Linked DNA regions of Homo sapiens: region 2 is linked to region 1. Evidence: fine-mapped expression QTL. Tissue or cell type: sun-exposed skin. Region 1 holds a variant in brackets; the other region holds the start of a gene. All regions are shown on one strand. Distances are from middle to middle.

What was found. PIP is the estimated chance that this variant, and not a neighbour inherited with it, causes the effect.
Region 2: GLO1 starts here. The variant in region 1 is fine-mapped to the expression of GLO1 in sun-exposed skin (GTEx, PIP above 0.99). The same link has a PIP of 0.9 or more in esophagus mucosa, minor salivary gland and unexposed skin.

Annotation. Positions count from the first base shown.
Region 1 is chr6:38,752,235-38,760,234 of GRCh38, forward strand. DNAH8 (dynein axonemal heavy chain 8) reads left to right here. Exons shown (of 93, transcript NM_001206927.2): 10 at 3,738-3,845. Among named protein-coding and RNA genes, the nearest start is that of DNAH8, 41 kb to the left of the region's middle. RefSeq lists an enhancer at 3,380-4,579. The variant T/G (reference allele first, on the strand shown) is at 3,151.
Region 2 is chr6:38,700,037-38,708,036 of GRCh38, forward strand. It overlaps GLO1 (glyoxalase I), which reads right to left and starts at 3,109. Exons shown (of 6, transcript NM_006708.3): 1 at 2,935-3,109. The coding sequence starts at 3,018. RefSeq lists enhancers at 2,251-2,843, 2,876-2,925, 2,946-3,045, 3,226-3,385.

The DNA.
Region 1 (8,000 bases):
CTCACTGCAACCTCCGCCTCCCGGGTTCAAGCAATTCTCCTGATTCAGCCTCCTGAGTAGCTGGGATTACAGGTGCATGCCACCATGCCCGGCTAATTTTTGTATTTTTAGTAGAGACAAGGTTTCGCCACATTGGCCAGGCTGCTCTCAAACTCCCGACCTCAAGTGATCTGCCCGCCTCCACCTCCCAAAGTGCTGGGATTACAGGCGTGAGCCATCGGGCCCAACACTTTCAAATTAATTTAATTTGTGTCTGATATCTGTGTCAGTATTCTTCACTCTAATTTTTTAAGAAGTAGTCAAATCTTCCATATAGGTGGCAGCACTGGCCACATGGTTTTGTTGACCAACCTTCTTGGGTCAATGTAGGTTTCATCCCAGAGGCAGGGAGAAGGAAAGAGGTTATGGCCTATATCACTTAGACTTGGAGAAGAAGGAGGTGTAAAGGCAGTTTATAATCTTTCCAAGAGAGTGTTAGTAGTCAAGAAGTTTAATATGAAAGGGGAGGGAAAAATGTCAGTTGAGAGTCTTGGACAAGTGCATTTCTTACTGCCATGAGGAATCCATTATCCATCAGGGAGCACCATGAGAGGGGACAGGAAGACTTTAGAAGCAGAGTCTTTTAATTGAGTCCATAAAGAGATTGTCGATTTTATTTAAAACTTATTAGTATTATTTGCAAAGAGATGACTTTTTGAAAAATTACAGCTTTATTTTAGATTCGGGGGTACATGTGCAGGTTTGTTACATGGGTATATGACATGATGCTGAGGTTTGGGGTATGGATGCTGTCACCCAGGTAGTGAGTACAGTACACAATAGGAAGTTTTTCAGCTCACACCTCTCTCCCTTCCTCCCCACCAAGAATTATGACTTTCTTAAACTTCATTCTTCTCATTTTTACCCCTGCTACTAGTAGCTGGACTTGTGTTGTGAACCTTTGTAAAATTTGTTTAATATAAGAACATTTATACTATTTCTTAGGTATTTCTGTGCACGTGACCCCAAGTAAAGAAAATCAAATTGTATATGGTGTTGGAGAAGTAAGGCCTTTGCTTGGCTTACTTGGCAGCTCAATGACTTAATTCCCCAACTTTACAATGTGAGCAATTAAAATTTCTGTCCAAGAAAAATTAAAATTATTACATGTCACAAGCATTTCAGATTGCTCACAAGATTTGAAGATGCAAATATGAAATACACATAATACCTAAAGCCTACTCCAGGGCTACCGCAAGTAGCTCTTGATGTGAAAAAATAATAGATGAAGTGAATATGGCACAACGTTCACGTTTGTCAAATCTAATGATGGGAGTAGGTGGTCATTATATTTTTCTCTGTACTTTTCTATATATTTAAAGCTTTTTATTATAAAAAGTAAACTTGAAAGAAAGAATACTCTTCATTGCTATCAAGACTCCAAATTTTAAGGTATACTGATTTCAACTTCTTGATTCAAAAGACTTGTTTTAATTCATATAATTTAAAAATCATTTAGTTCTGATGTTTTTTTCATCCTAGTAATTTTAAAAAGCTTTGTTCAATTACTCTAACCATGGATGTGCCTTATTATTGTTATTTTGTTGTTGTTGAGCTTTTTATATTCTCTGATGTAGGAAGGTTTCAAGCATCACCTTTTGAAATGACAGAAGTACTAATAGCATTGAGTCATATAATTGCTTCCCACTCATACACCCACTATATCTGTACTTTCAACAATTCCTTTTTCCCCCTCATTTTCTTTATTCTGATTAAAAGTAACCAGCAATTGCTGTTTAGTTTATAACTGTCATTTGGGTAGGAAAAGTGCAGGGGATTCATGCTTCCATTTCTGGTTCATAAGTTTTATGTATGTTTCATTTTTTTAATCACCCTGGTATTGTGCTTTAGGCATATCTTACTATTATATGTTTGACATATGAGATATCTGAGCACTGTATATAGATGGACAAGAACAGTGCACTCAAGGAGCTACTATTGTAAATAATGATGTTTAAAGTTCAGATGAAGGACGTTTTCCTGAAGGACCCATTTGATGCCATCCCTGAGCCCTCTTTATTGGAGTTTAGTGGTACTTTGTAGACATGACTTAGGAAGGGTGGAAGGGACTCTTTCTAGGCATATTTTTATTAGGATCTTTTTGATCTACAGATACCATATATAATATGAATTCTGGCCTAGAAGGTTAACTATAAAGTAATGGTGTTAATTTCCATAAGCCACATAAAACTGATTTAATTATTCCATAGTTATACCCCACACCTAGGACATACCGTACAGTAATCGGTAGTTGTTTTTCTTGGCTGTATTTCTTCCATCACCATTAAAAACACATTTTATATATTTTATCTTGTCTTATCAATTAAAAGGAAAGTTCCTTGAAGGGAGGGATGCCATTGGCTTTGTCTGTTCTCCTGTAGTGATTTGCATCACGGTTAGAAGCAGGGTCTCAAAATCTCCACTATGTAACTTACAGCTGTTGGATCTTAGGCAAGGGACTTAACTTCTCTACCTCTCTGTTTTCTCATTTGCAAAATGGGAATAATGATAATACTTTATTTTATAGATTCTAAGACTTTTTTTCACATTTTAATATCCCTGAACTCAGGACATACTTTAGTCAGTTAGGTTTTGTGAATCATTGTGGATGTGACTTGATACTACCTTAAATTATTAGTTCTCTCCTTGAGGGTGTTTTTTTTGTTTTGTTTTGTTTTTGATTTTGGTGCCATTCGTATGAATTCAGACTGCAGTTGAGTACCTGTGCATACATTCTCAAAGAAGTTTGATTTCTTTCCTCCTCCTGGTAGCATGTACATTTTGTTTCTCTCTTTTTCTCCATGGTTGGTTTATTTCATGTTTACCTTAACAGGGAGGACCCACTGGTGGCCTAGTATTATGTAGGAGTTAGATTCCTCATCTTGGGTGTCTTTTTTCTTTCTTAATAGCACAGAAAATAATGGTGCAATCTTACAATCCGTGATGTTTTATATCTGATGTAATCAAACCTACCTTCAAGGGTTGTTGTCAGCATATCTTAGAATAATATGCTAACGCTCTTAGCCTAGTGCCTGGAATATAGTAAGCAGTCAGTTTATGTTCAGGATTGTTTTATATCCTTGTTGTACTTGTTCTGCTTTGCTCTACCTT[T/G]TTCTACTTGTTTTACTTGTTTGTGTTTATCTCTTCTGCTCTGTTGTGAGCTACTCATGAATAGGTTTGGATTTCTTCCAATATCTTCAGAGCCTAATGGCACTTGGTAGGATTGCTAAAACACGAACTGAGTTGCATAAAAGAAAATGAATGCTAGTCTGATTTCTATTTTAGCTGGGCTTATGACCTTAAGAAAGTCACTTTACCCCTCAAGGTATCAGTTTCTTCACCTTTAAAAAGAGCAGAATGAACTATTAACCTTAAAATGGCTCTCACCTCTAAAATTTAATTTTAGATAAACTTTTAAGTTCAGATTTACAGAAAAGTTGCAATGATAGCACAGAATTCTCTTTACCCAGTTTCTCCTGTTAACATCCTGTATTACCTTAGTTTGTTTGTCAAAACTAATGTCCTGTTATCTGTTCCAGGGTCTAGTCTAGAATACTGCATTGGATTTAGTAAAATTTGACTTTAAGCTAAAAATGCTATACTATTTTGTGTACCTTTAGAGTTTTGAGTATTATAGAATATTGGTTATTAAAACTATATGCATATGATGGAATTCACTTAATTTGTTTCAATGTTAGGTTTCCATGGCACATGGAATACAAAATTTGATTAATGCCATCAGAATGATTCACGGTGTGTCAAGGTATTATAATACCTCAGAGAGAATGACCTCATTGTTTATCAAGGTAAGTTTCTGTGGGAGGAAATTACATGTCATCCTGTGAAAAAGTTAGCAAATCTTTCCTTCTGAGCCCTAGGAAGGGAATTTGGAAGCCTAAGTGCCTCTCAGAGTTTTAATACTTCCAGTGGACAAGAAGAGAAAGGCGTTGACTGGACTCAGTTGTACTTAATTGAAGGGAGTAATTGGTACTTTTCTGTTTATCAGATGTAAGCCCCAATACTTAAAGAAAATGTGCCTGGTGGTTTTTTAATTTATTCATTTCAAATAGTTTTGATTCTACCCAAGAGATAGGAGTGTGTCTACTATTAACAGTGCTTCTTTAGCTACTCCCATGAACACTATAGTTTGTGTAAAATTTTCCTGTGTAGCGCCGCATGGTTAATTATTTAAAATAATTTTTTAAAAATGATTAAACAATATATATTTAAATTTGCTAGCCAATGTCATTCTTTTTTTTATTATACATTAAGTTTTAGGGTACATGTGCATAATGTGCAGGTTAGTTACATATGTATACATGTGCCATGTTGGTGTGCTGCACCCATTAACTCGTCATTTAACATTAGGGATATCTCCTAATGCTATCCCTCCCCCCTCCCTCCACCCCATGACAGGCCCCAGTGTGTGATGTTCCCCTTCCTGTGTCCGTGTGTTCTCATTGTTCAATTCCCACCTCTAAGTGAGAACATGCGGTGTTTGTTTTTTTGTCCTTGCGATAGTTTGCTGAGAATGATGGTTTCCAGCTTCATCCATGTCCCTACAAAGGACATGAATTCATCGTTTTTTATGGCTGCATAGTATTCCATGGTGTGTATGTGCCACATTTTCTTAATCCCGTCTATCATTGTTGGACATTTGGCTTGGTTCCAAGTCTTTGCTATTGTGAATAGTGCCGCAATAAACATACGTGTGCATGTGTCTTTATAGCAGCATGATTTATAATCCTTTGGGTATATACCCAGTAATGGGATTGCTGGGTCAGATGGTATTTCTAGTTCTAGATCCCTGAGGAATCGCCACACTGACTTCCACAATGGTTGAACTAGTTTACAGTCCCACCAACAGTGTAAAAGTGTTCCTATTTCTCCACATCCTCTCCAGCACCTGTTGTTTCCTGACTTTTTAATGATCGCCATTCTAACTGGTGTGAGATGGTATCTCATTGTGGTTTTGATTTGCATTTCTCTGATGGCCAGTGATGATGAGCATTTTTTCATGTATCTTTTGGCTGCATAAATGTCTTCTTTTGAGAAGTGTCTGTTCATATCCTTTGCCCACTTTTTGATGGGGTTGTTTGTTTTTTTCTTGTAAATTTGTTTGAGTTCATTGTAGATTCTGGATATTAGCCCTTTGTCAGATGAGTAGATTGCAAAAATTTTCTCCCATTCTGTAGGTTGCCTGTTCACTCTGATGGTAGTTTCTTTTGCTGTGCAGAAGCTCTTTAGTTCAATTAGATCCCATTTGTCAATTTTGGCTTCTGTTGCCATTGCTTTTGGTGTTTTAGACATGAAGTCCTTGCCCATACCTATGCTCTGAATGGTATTGCCTAGGTTTTCTTCTAGGGTTTTTATGGTTTTAGGTCTAACATTTAAGTCTTTAATCCATCTTGAATTAATTTTTGTATAAGGTGTAAGGAAGGGATCCATTTTCAGCTTTCTACATATGGCTAGCCAGTTTTCCCAGTGCCATTTATTAAATAGGGAATCGTTTCCCCATTTCTTGTTTTTGTCAGGTTTGTCAAAGATCAGATAGTTGTAGATATGCGGCATTATTTCTGAGGGCTCTGTTCTGTTCCATTGGTCTATATCTCTGTTTTGGTGCCAGTACATGCTGTTTTGGTTACTGTAGCCTTGTAGTATAGTTTGAAGTCAGGTAGCGTGATGCCTCTAGCTTTGTTCTTTTGGCTTAGGATTGACTTGGCAATTTTTTGCCAGGGCTCTTTTTTGGTGCCATATGAACTTTAAAGTAGTTTTTTCCAATTCTATGAAGAAAGTCATAGGTAGCTTGATGGGGATGGCACTGAATCTATAAATTACCTTGGGCAGTATGGCCATTTTCACGATATTGATTCTTCCTACCCATGAGCATGGAATGTTCTTCCATTTGTTTATATCTTCTTTTATTTCCTTGAGCAGTGGTTTGTAGTTCTCCTCGAAGAGGTCCTTCACATCCCTTGTAAGTTGGATTCCTAGGTATTTTATTCTCTTTGAAGCAATTGTGAATGGGAGTTCACTCATGATTTGGCTCTCTGTTTGTCTGTTATTGGTGTATAAGAATGCTTGTGATTTTTGCACATTGATTTTGTATCCTGAGACTTTGCTGAAGTTGCTTATCAGCTTAAGGAGATTTTGGGCTGAGACGATGGGGTTTTCTAGATATACAATCATGTCATCTGCAAACAGGGACAATTTGACTTCCTCTTTTCCTAATTGAATGCCCTTTATTTCCTTCTCCTGCCCGATTGCCCTGGCCAGAACTTCCAACACTATGTTGAATAGGAGTGGTGAGAGAGGGCATCCCTGTCTTGTGCCAGTTTTCAAAGGGAATGCTTCCAGTTTTTGTCTATTCAGTATGATATTGGCTGTGGGTTTGTCATAAATAGCTCTTATTATTTTGAGATACATCCCATCAATACCTAATTTATTGAGAGTTTTTATCATGAAGGGTTGTTGAATTTTGTCAAAGGCCTTATCTGCATCTGTTGAGATAATCATGTGGTTTTTGTCTTTGGTTCTGTTTATATGCTGGATTATGTTTATTGATTTGTGTACGTTGAACCAGCCTTGCATCCCAGGGATGAAGCCCACTTGATCATGGTGGATAAGCTTTTTGATGTGCTGCTGGATTCGGTTTGCCAGTATTTTATTGAGGATTTTTGCATCCATGTTCATCAGGGATATTGGTCTTTTTTAAAATAATTTGAGAAATTACTCAAGCAACACATGAGACCAGGCATGGTGGTTCAGGCTGTAATCCCAGCGCTTTGGGAGGCTGAGGTGGGAGGATCGCTGGAGCTCACGAGTTTGAGACCAACCTGGGCAACATAGAGAGACCTTGGCTCTACAAAAAAAAATTTTTTTAAGTTAGCTGGGCATGGTGGTGTGTGCCTGTAGTCCTAGCTATTCCAGAGGCTGAGGCAGGAGGATCCCTTGAGCCTGGGAGTTCAAGAATGCAGTAAGCTGTGATAACACCATGGCACTCCAGCCTAGGCAAGAGAGAAAGACCCTGTCTCAAAAAACAAACAAACAAACAAACAAACAAACAAACCACCACCAACGAAAAAACCCACATGAATAGAATTTATTTGTAAATTATTCAAGCATAACGAAATATATAAAGTCATAGTCACATTTTAAGTTTTTTTAAAAAGCAAAGTATAGGCTTAATCACTATGTCCTAAATACGACAAGACTCTCAGAATCCTTCCTCTTTACCTGTCTCTCTCATTCTTGCCATATATGTCCCACATTGAGATCATTTTTAGTTCTGACAATGATTCTTTGCTTGGCTTCTGAATCTTCTGGTAGGCCCACCTTTGCACTTTCTAGTGAAATCTAGTTTGAGCAAAGAACCCTGCTAAGTCAGTTTAGCAAGAACCCCCCATTCTTGATATCTGATGACTCTAGATATCTGATCAGGTTTTCATTCCCCCCAACCCCCCAGGTGTTGTCTGATCACTTTGGCCTGTCTTCAGCAAGAATCCTGTTAGGTCAGTTTAACCAAAATCCCCCTTACCTCTGATGTTTCCTCTTAATAATTTTCCACCCACTGACTCCCATCCTGCCCCTTGGCTATACATTCCTGCTTGCCCATGCTGTGTTCAGAGTTGAGCCCAATCTCTCTTTCCTGCTACAAGATCCCATTGCAGTGGTCCCTATACCTATCACAATGGTCCTGAATAAAGTCTCTTGCTTTGCAAGTATCACTGAATAATTTTTTAACAGTTCCATATTATTCTTAACATTTTTTTCAACATTGTGAATCAACAAGTATTCAGACTAAAATCCAAGTATTGCTAATTTATTTATCACCACTGTTTTGTGATTCCCACATCTTTTTCCTTCTTGGATTCATTATTTCTTTTGCTGAAAAAATTCTTTCAGAGAGGTTTCAGGGTGGTGAACTTCCTGGATTTCTACATGTCTGAAAATCACTTTCA
Region 2 (8,000 bases), 52 kb before region 1:
AATAAAAACTTGCTGGTCTAAGACTCAGGTGGGCATCACAGTCCTACTGATATGTGATGTCACCCCCCGGCAGCCCAGCTGTAAAATTCCTCTCTTTGTACTCTTTATTTCTCAGCTGGCCAATACTTATGGAAAATAGAAAGAACCTACGTTGAAATATTGGGGTGGGTTCCCCCCGTATCAAAACACATTTTTGCTAAGATGTTTCCTTCATCAGAATGCCTTCCCATGTACTCTGCTGGAATCCTACCCAATCTATCAAGGCATAGGCCCATCACCACCATCTTTTTGATGTGTGCCCTGATCCCCACAGCTGAAATACAACCTTGAATTGTATCACTCTTCATAGTTTAGAGAACATAATACATGTCATTTTATCCTCATAGCAGCTCTCTGAGATATCTTTATGCTCCTTCTACAAACTGAGCCCAAGTGCCCTGGCAAGGTCACTGCAGCCAACAACAGAAGTGGGGATTCAAATGCAGGTCTTCAGGCTCCAAATACCCTGTGCATACCCCATTCCACTAATGCTACCTTTAAAAACCTCTACCTCCCAGGGTGCTCTCAGGGTGATTTATATTTCAATAGCACACTAACCCCAGGTCCATTGTATATTAGAGTTGATATAAGTTGGTGAAGGGAGGGAACCTCATCTTGTTTATCCCAGTATCCCCAAAGTACTTACCATCTTCTTTACATATAGCATAAATGTATCAAGTGATCAAACTGAATTTAATTCATTGAGGGTTTTTTTTTTTTTTTGGACAAAGTCTCACTCTGTCACCCAAGCTGGAATGCAGTGGCATGATCTCGGCTCCCTGCAACCTCCACCTCATGGGTTCAAGTGATTTTCCTGCCTCAGCCTCCCAAGTAGCTGGGATTACAGGTGCCCGCCACCATGCCCAGCTAATTTTTGTATTTTTAGTAGAGCAGAGTTTTGCCATGTTGGCCAGGCTGGTCTCGAACTGCTAACCTCAGGTGATCTGCCCACCTCGCTCTCCCAAAGTGCTGGGATTACAGGCATGAGCCACTGCACCCAGCCTTCATTGAGGTTTTTTATTTTCCTTTATGGCAAATTCCAAAATTACTGCTGGAGTCAGCACCCCAGAAGCAGAACAGGGTGGAGGTTGGAAGTGTGGGGTCCTCCCTGGGCAAATCACTCAACACCTCTATGTGCCTGAGTGTCCTTATTTGTAAAATGAAGATCATAATTATGCCTTCTTCATAGGGTTGTTGTTAGGATTAAATTAAACAATGTACTTAAAATACCAAGCCAGGGCCTGGCACACTCAATATATACCAGCTATTATTATGTATTCCATTTTATGTCTCCCATGGCCAAAAATTACTGATCTCAAAATTAATTACTCCGAATCATCAAGAGAAATTTAGATACTGTGGAATGTAAATTAAGCTGCAAGGACATTTACTTAGTATATTTTATAAAGATATCCCTGGAATCCTTTTTATTTGAAAACCCCATTACATAAAACCCCTAGTTATCTGGGAAAATACTTTACACTGAGTGACTCAATTTACATTATATGAAAAAACCAGGTATTAATATTAAGGGATATACAAGTGAGATGGGCATGACGGAATTTTTTTACCTTCCCCCTTAATTTTGCAATGACTAACATTTTTCCTAAGCCAAGTACCAGGTGCTAGTCAAAAGTTTTAGCAATGAGATGTGTCTGACTCTTTGCCCTGAAGGTAAAGAACAAGCAGGGACCAGAGTCATGGACCACTTATCTACCCCTTTTAAAGGTCTGCACGAAGCACATATTCAATCTTCAAGGAATTTACAAATGATGTAGTCAAATAAATAAATACAAAGGTGTTTACAGACACTGATGACTTCACTGGAATAAACAGCGGTTACTGTGCCTGAATTTTTTTTTTTTTTTTTTTTTAGACAGAGTCTCACTCTGTCGCCCAGGCTGGAGTGCAGTGGCACGATCTCAGCTCACTGCAAGCTCCGCCTCCCGGGTTCATGCCATTCTCCTGCCTCAGCCTCCCGAGTAGCTGGGACTACAGGCACCCGCCACCACGCCCAGCTCATTTTTTTGTATTTTTAGTAGAGACGGGGTTTCACCGTGTTAGGATGGTCTCTACCTCTTGACCTCGTGATCCGCCCGCCTTGGCCTCCCAAAGTGCTGGGATTACAGGCGTGAGCCACCGCGCCCGCCAACTGTGTCTGATCTTAACAAGGCAACCGAAACACCACACCTGAGTGAGTTACACTGATTCTTACCCAGTAAAGACATGTTCGGTAAGTGAAAGCCTTTGTATGCAACAGGTCATTTCTCTTACTGGGTCATTACTGTAAAACGAGAGGGTAAGAGAAGGAATTTCTAAGATTCCTTTCAGATCCAAACTCTATGATTCTGTAATCTCTCCTGGGCCCCACGAAGATGAGGAAGGCAAGAAGGGCTGTTGTGACCCACAGCAAAGGCCAAGCAAGCAAAAGTGAAATTCTGGGCGCGGTTAAACTTAGAGCGATCAAATTAGTTTGCAGGAGTTAAGACTGCAGTCAGGGTGGTAAGGAAAAACGAGGCTGGGCAGGACTGGTACAGGACAGGCATCTTTGAACCTATTTCTGGGAGTTCTGAAACTACTGTTCTCGTGGGCCTTGGCGACTGATTTGGGAAAGCTGACCCTGGGTTGGCCTGGCTTCCAGCCACCGTCGCAACATAAACAAGCCAATTCAAAACAGGGTCGCAGTCTTTGAAACTAGCTGAGGCAACAGATCCCCTCCACACTTCGCGGGCCCCACGATCGCCCCATCAAACACCATTATCCCTCTTCCCATCACACTCCCGTCCGCCCGAGGCCGGCGGACCTGCAGCGGCGGCGGGATGGGGTTGGATAGAATGCGGCCCGGTCCCGGCCCAGCGGAGCTGGGGGAGCCGTTCCCTTCGGTCCTGTGCCCACCTTGGTACTGGGGTCCGCGTCGGAGCAGCAACTGAGGGCGGCCTCGTCCGTGAGGCCGCCGGACGGGGGCTGCGGTTCTGCCATGGCTGCGCTGCAGTATCACAGACGACGGGACCCAAGGAACGGAGGAGTCACCCACACTACGCCTCGGCCCTGTGCCGCCTTAACTAGGAATGGCGCGATGGCGCCGCGGGCGGGAGACCGCTGACTTCCAGCCAATCGCTGCGCGGAGAGCAAGTTGACTCTCTGCTGATTGGGTCCCAGTGAGTCAGCGCCTCCACCCACAGGACTATGCCTCAGACTACAACTCCCAAGGAGCCTTGCGCATAAAGGAGGCAAACTCATACAAAAAAAAAAAAAAAAATGCAGGCTGGGCAGAGTGGTTTCTCTGTTACTTAATGAGCTAATTTTGTTTGTTTAACTAAAGTTTGGTAACCATTCATACCTCAGGGCTGCAATTTGGTAGAAAATTGGAATCTGATGGAAACTGAAAACTGTAAGTTGTTCTTTTAAAATTGTAAGGATTCAGAGGTTTCTCAGTTTACGCAGCGCAGAGTAATTAAAACAATTGTTGAGTCGAAAACCTATGTTCAAGTCTTGGTTCCGCTATATATTAGCGCTAGAAACTTGCAATAATTACTGACCCTCTCTGAGCTTCCTAACAGGATTTGTTGAGAATTAAATAAGTTTTCTTTTCCTTTTTCTTTTTTCTTTTCTTTCTTTCTTTCTTTTTTTTTTTTTTTTAATTTTTTTAACAGTGTCTCGCTCTGTCGCCCAGGCTGGAGTGCAGTGGTGTGCTCTCAGCTTACTGCAGTCACTGCTGCCTCGACTTCCGGGGCTCTAGCTGTCCTCTGGCCTCAGCCTCCCGATTAGCTGAGACTACAGGCTGCAAAACCAAGACCAGTTAATTTTTGTATTTTTTTGAGATGGGGGTTTCACCATGTTGCCCAGGCTGGTCTCAACTCCTGGGCTGAAGTGACCCTCCCGCCTCAGCCTCCCAAAGTGCTGGGATTACAGGTGTAGCCACTGTGCCCAGCCTAAATGAGATTTAAGTCATGGTTTGCCTACTTAGGTTCCAAATGTCCATAACTTGCAGTACTTTTTACATTAATATATATTTTGTGTTCACTGGAAGGCTTAGTCATCACTGTGTCTTCAATGATTGGCTCATAATAGTAGATGCTCATTAAATACTTCCTGTTGTTAAAAGAATAAATGGGAATGACTGGTGCTCACCTAACCAAAATGAGGTTGGGCAGGGATGTATATGGCACTAGCCACCTGGCCACCACCAAGATGTCCCCGTCTCTCATCTCAGCTTTTTTCTGCATCGCAGCTTCAGTTTGTCAGACACCAGCTCCATAAGACTAGAAATTTGGCAGCTGTTCTCTCACTAGGAGTGGGAGTAAACTCTCCCTCTGGATTTTATCCAGCCAGCCTGGATTTTATCAAATTGGAAAATCCAAGAAGGAGCTGTGATTGGCCTGGCCTAGGACCTGTGCTTACTCCTGTGATTGAAGCACTGCGATTGGCAACCTGGATTAGGACCACCTGATTGGAGTTTGGGGAGGATCTGTTAGTTCCCTAAAAGAAGAGCGATGATGTTCTTATGAGAAGGGAGGATTGCCAGGCAAACTGAACCATGGATGTCCACTGCAAAATGATAGGCAGGATAAGGATTTCAGCAGAAATGTTGTGCATACCTCATACTAACTTACTGAGGATATTTCATCAAAACACAGTCTATTAGAACTGCAGGACTTCTATATGGAACTAGACCTTAAACCTTTTAAACTCGGGAATTGGAGCAATACACAAACTCTCCATATACTGTGTGTTACCACTGAATTATTGAAAAGACCCCCAAATTGTCTTCTTTTGCATTAATTTTCTTTTTTAGATGGAGTCTTCCTCTGTCGCCCAGGCTGGAATGCAGTGGTGTGATCTTGGCTCACTGCAACCTCCACCTCCTGGGTTCAAGCGATTCTCCTGCCTGAGCCTCCCAAGTAGCTGGGATTACAGGCACCTGCCACCATGCTGGCTAATTTTTGTATTTTTAGTAGAGACACGGTTTCACCATGTTGGCCAGGCTGGTCTCAAACTCCTGACCTCAGGTGATCCGCCCACCTCGGCCTCCCAAAGTGCTGGGATTACAGGCATGAGCCACTGTTCCCAGCCCTTTTGCACTAATCTTTCTGGTGAGCTTCTCAGACTATGTGAGATATAAAGCATGTAAATGAATAGGAAGACTCAATATCATAAAATATCAATTCATTTACTAATTAATCTGTTCATGTAATGAAATTCCAATAAAAATCCCAACAGAGTCCTTTCTTTCTTTCTTTCTTTCTTTCTTTCTTTCTTTCTTTCTTTCTTTCTTTCTTTCTTTCTTCTTTCTTTATTTGTTTCTTTCTTTATTTCTTTCTTTCTTTCTTCTTTCTTTCTTTTCTTTCTTCTTTCTTTCTTTCAAGATAGGGTCTCACTCTGTTGCCCAGTGTGGAGTGCAGTGGTGCTGTCTCAGCTCACTGCAGCCTCAACCTCTCAGGCTCCAGCAATCCACCCACCCACCCACCTCAGCCTCACAAATAGCTAAGACTATAGGCATGCACCACCAAAACCAGATAATTTATTTTATTTTAGTTTTTGTAGAGACAGCATCTCACTATGTTGCCCAGGCTGGTCTTGAACTCCTGAGCTCAAGTGATCCTCGCACTTTGGCCTCCCCAAAGTGTGATTACAGGTATGAACCACTGTGCCTGGCCCAGGGGTTTTCAATTAAAATGAACAAGCAGATTCTACATTCTATTTTTAGGGCCCCAAATAGGAAAGATATACTGAATAATAATTAAGTAGGGGAACATTCTCTACCGGATAACAAGACTTTGTACAAGCTACAGTAATTAAGACAGGATGAAAAAAAAAAAAAAGACAGTATGGTAGGGAGGCTGGCATAGATCAACAAATGGAAACTGTAGTAGACCACTCTAAGATAACCCCAATGATCCCCACCTCCGGGTCTTCACAGTCTTGTCTGCTTCCCTAACCTTGAGTATGGGCTGGATTTGGTGGCTCACTTCTGATACAAAGAGCATGATAGACATGATAAAGTGTCACTTCATGTCATTTCTGAGATTAGAGAATGAAATGTTGTGATTCTTATCTTGGGAGCTCTGTCACTTTCTTTGATCTCTCACTTGGAGGGTAAGCAAGTTGTCACGTTGTGAGCAACTCTAAGGAGAGATGCATGTGGCAAGGAACCAATGTCTCTGGTCAACAGCCAGTGAAGGCCAGACACCTGCCATCAGCTACACAGTAAAATTGCAAGTGGGTCCTTTTTCAGTAGAGCTTCAAAATGACTGCTGCTTTGGCCAACCTCTTAGTCACTGTCTTGTGAGAGACCCTGATCCAGAACTACCTAGCTGGACCATTCCCAGATTCTTAAACCACAGAAACTGTGAGATAATAAATGTTTATTGTTTTCAGCTGCTAAGTTTTGGAATAAGTTGTTGTGCATTAATAGGCAACCAATATACACACATACCATGTTTGTGTCTCTGTGTGTGTGTATATATATATAAATTTGGTATGTGTTATCTTACTGCTAGTGGGGAAAAGATTATTTTTTCAATGAATGGGGTAAGGACAATTGATTATGTATGTGATAAAAAAAGATCTCTATTTCATACCATAAAGGAAAACGTAAGTCCAAGAGGATTATAGACATAAATGTGAAAAGGCAAAACTTAAAACCTTGAAGAATAAAATATTAGAAAATGCCTTTGTGAATTCATGGTAGAAATTTCTTAATGAAGGCTGGGCGCGGTGGCTCACTAGCACTTTGGAAGGCTGAGACAGGTGGATTGCCTGAGTTCAGGAGTTTGAGACCAGCCTGGGCAACACAGTGAAACCTCGTCTCTGCTAAAATTCAAAAAATTAGCCAGGCGTGGTGGCGTGTGCTTGTAGTCCCAGCTACTCGGGAGGCTGAGGCAGGAGAATTGTTTGAACCTGGGAGGCAGGGGTTGCAGTGAGCCGAGATCGTGCCACTGCACTCCAGCCTGGGTGACAGAGCAAGACTCCATCTCCAAAAAAAAAGAAAGAAAGAAAGAAAGAAGTTTCTTAATGAGATATAAAAGCACGAAGTATAAAAGAAAGCTAAAACACACCCTAAAAGGTAAAAAGTTAAACCATAGACCAGGAGAAAGTATGGGCAACACACATAGCCAACAAAGGTTCAGTATCCAGAATATGTAAAAACTGTTAGAAATCAATGAGAAAGAGACACATAACTCGATAGAAAAAAATGGCCAAAAAGAAGAATAGGCAATTTACAAAAGAGAGAATAGAAATAGCATATATTCATATGAAAAATTGCTCCAAGTCTGCCCTACGTAGTGAAACCCCACCTCTACTAAAAGTACAAAAATTAGCCAGGTGTGGTGGCACATGCCTGTAATCCCAGCTACTTAGGAGGCTAAGGTAGGAGAATCACTTGAACCTGGGAGGTGGAGGTTGCAGTGAGGTGAGATCACGTTACTTGGGCGACAGAATGAGACCCTGTCTCAAAAAAAGGAAAGAAAGGAAAGGAAGGGAGGAAAGAAAGGAAAGGAAGGGAGGAAAGAAAGGAAAGGAAGGGAGGAAAGAAAGAAAGAGGAAGGAAGGAAGGAGGGAGGGAGGGAAGGAAGGAAGGAAGAAAGAGAGAGAGAAAGAAAGAAAGGAAGAAAGAAAGAAAGAAGGAAAGAAAGAAAGAAAGAAAGAAAGAAAGAAAGAAAGAAAGAAAGAAAGAAAGAGAGAGAGTCCGGGAGTGGGGGCTCACGCCTGTAATCCCAGCAGTTTGGGAGGCTGAGGCAGGAGGATCACGAGGTCGGGAGTTTGAGACCAGCCTGACCAACATGGTGAAACCCCGTCTGTACTAAAAATACAAAAATTAACCAGGTGTGGTGGCATGTGCCTGTAATCCCAACTACTTAGGAGGCTGAGGCAGGAGAATCACTTGAACCCGGGAGGCAGAGGTTGCAGTGAGCTGAGATCACGCCACTGCACTCCAGCCTGGGTGACAGAGTGAGACT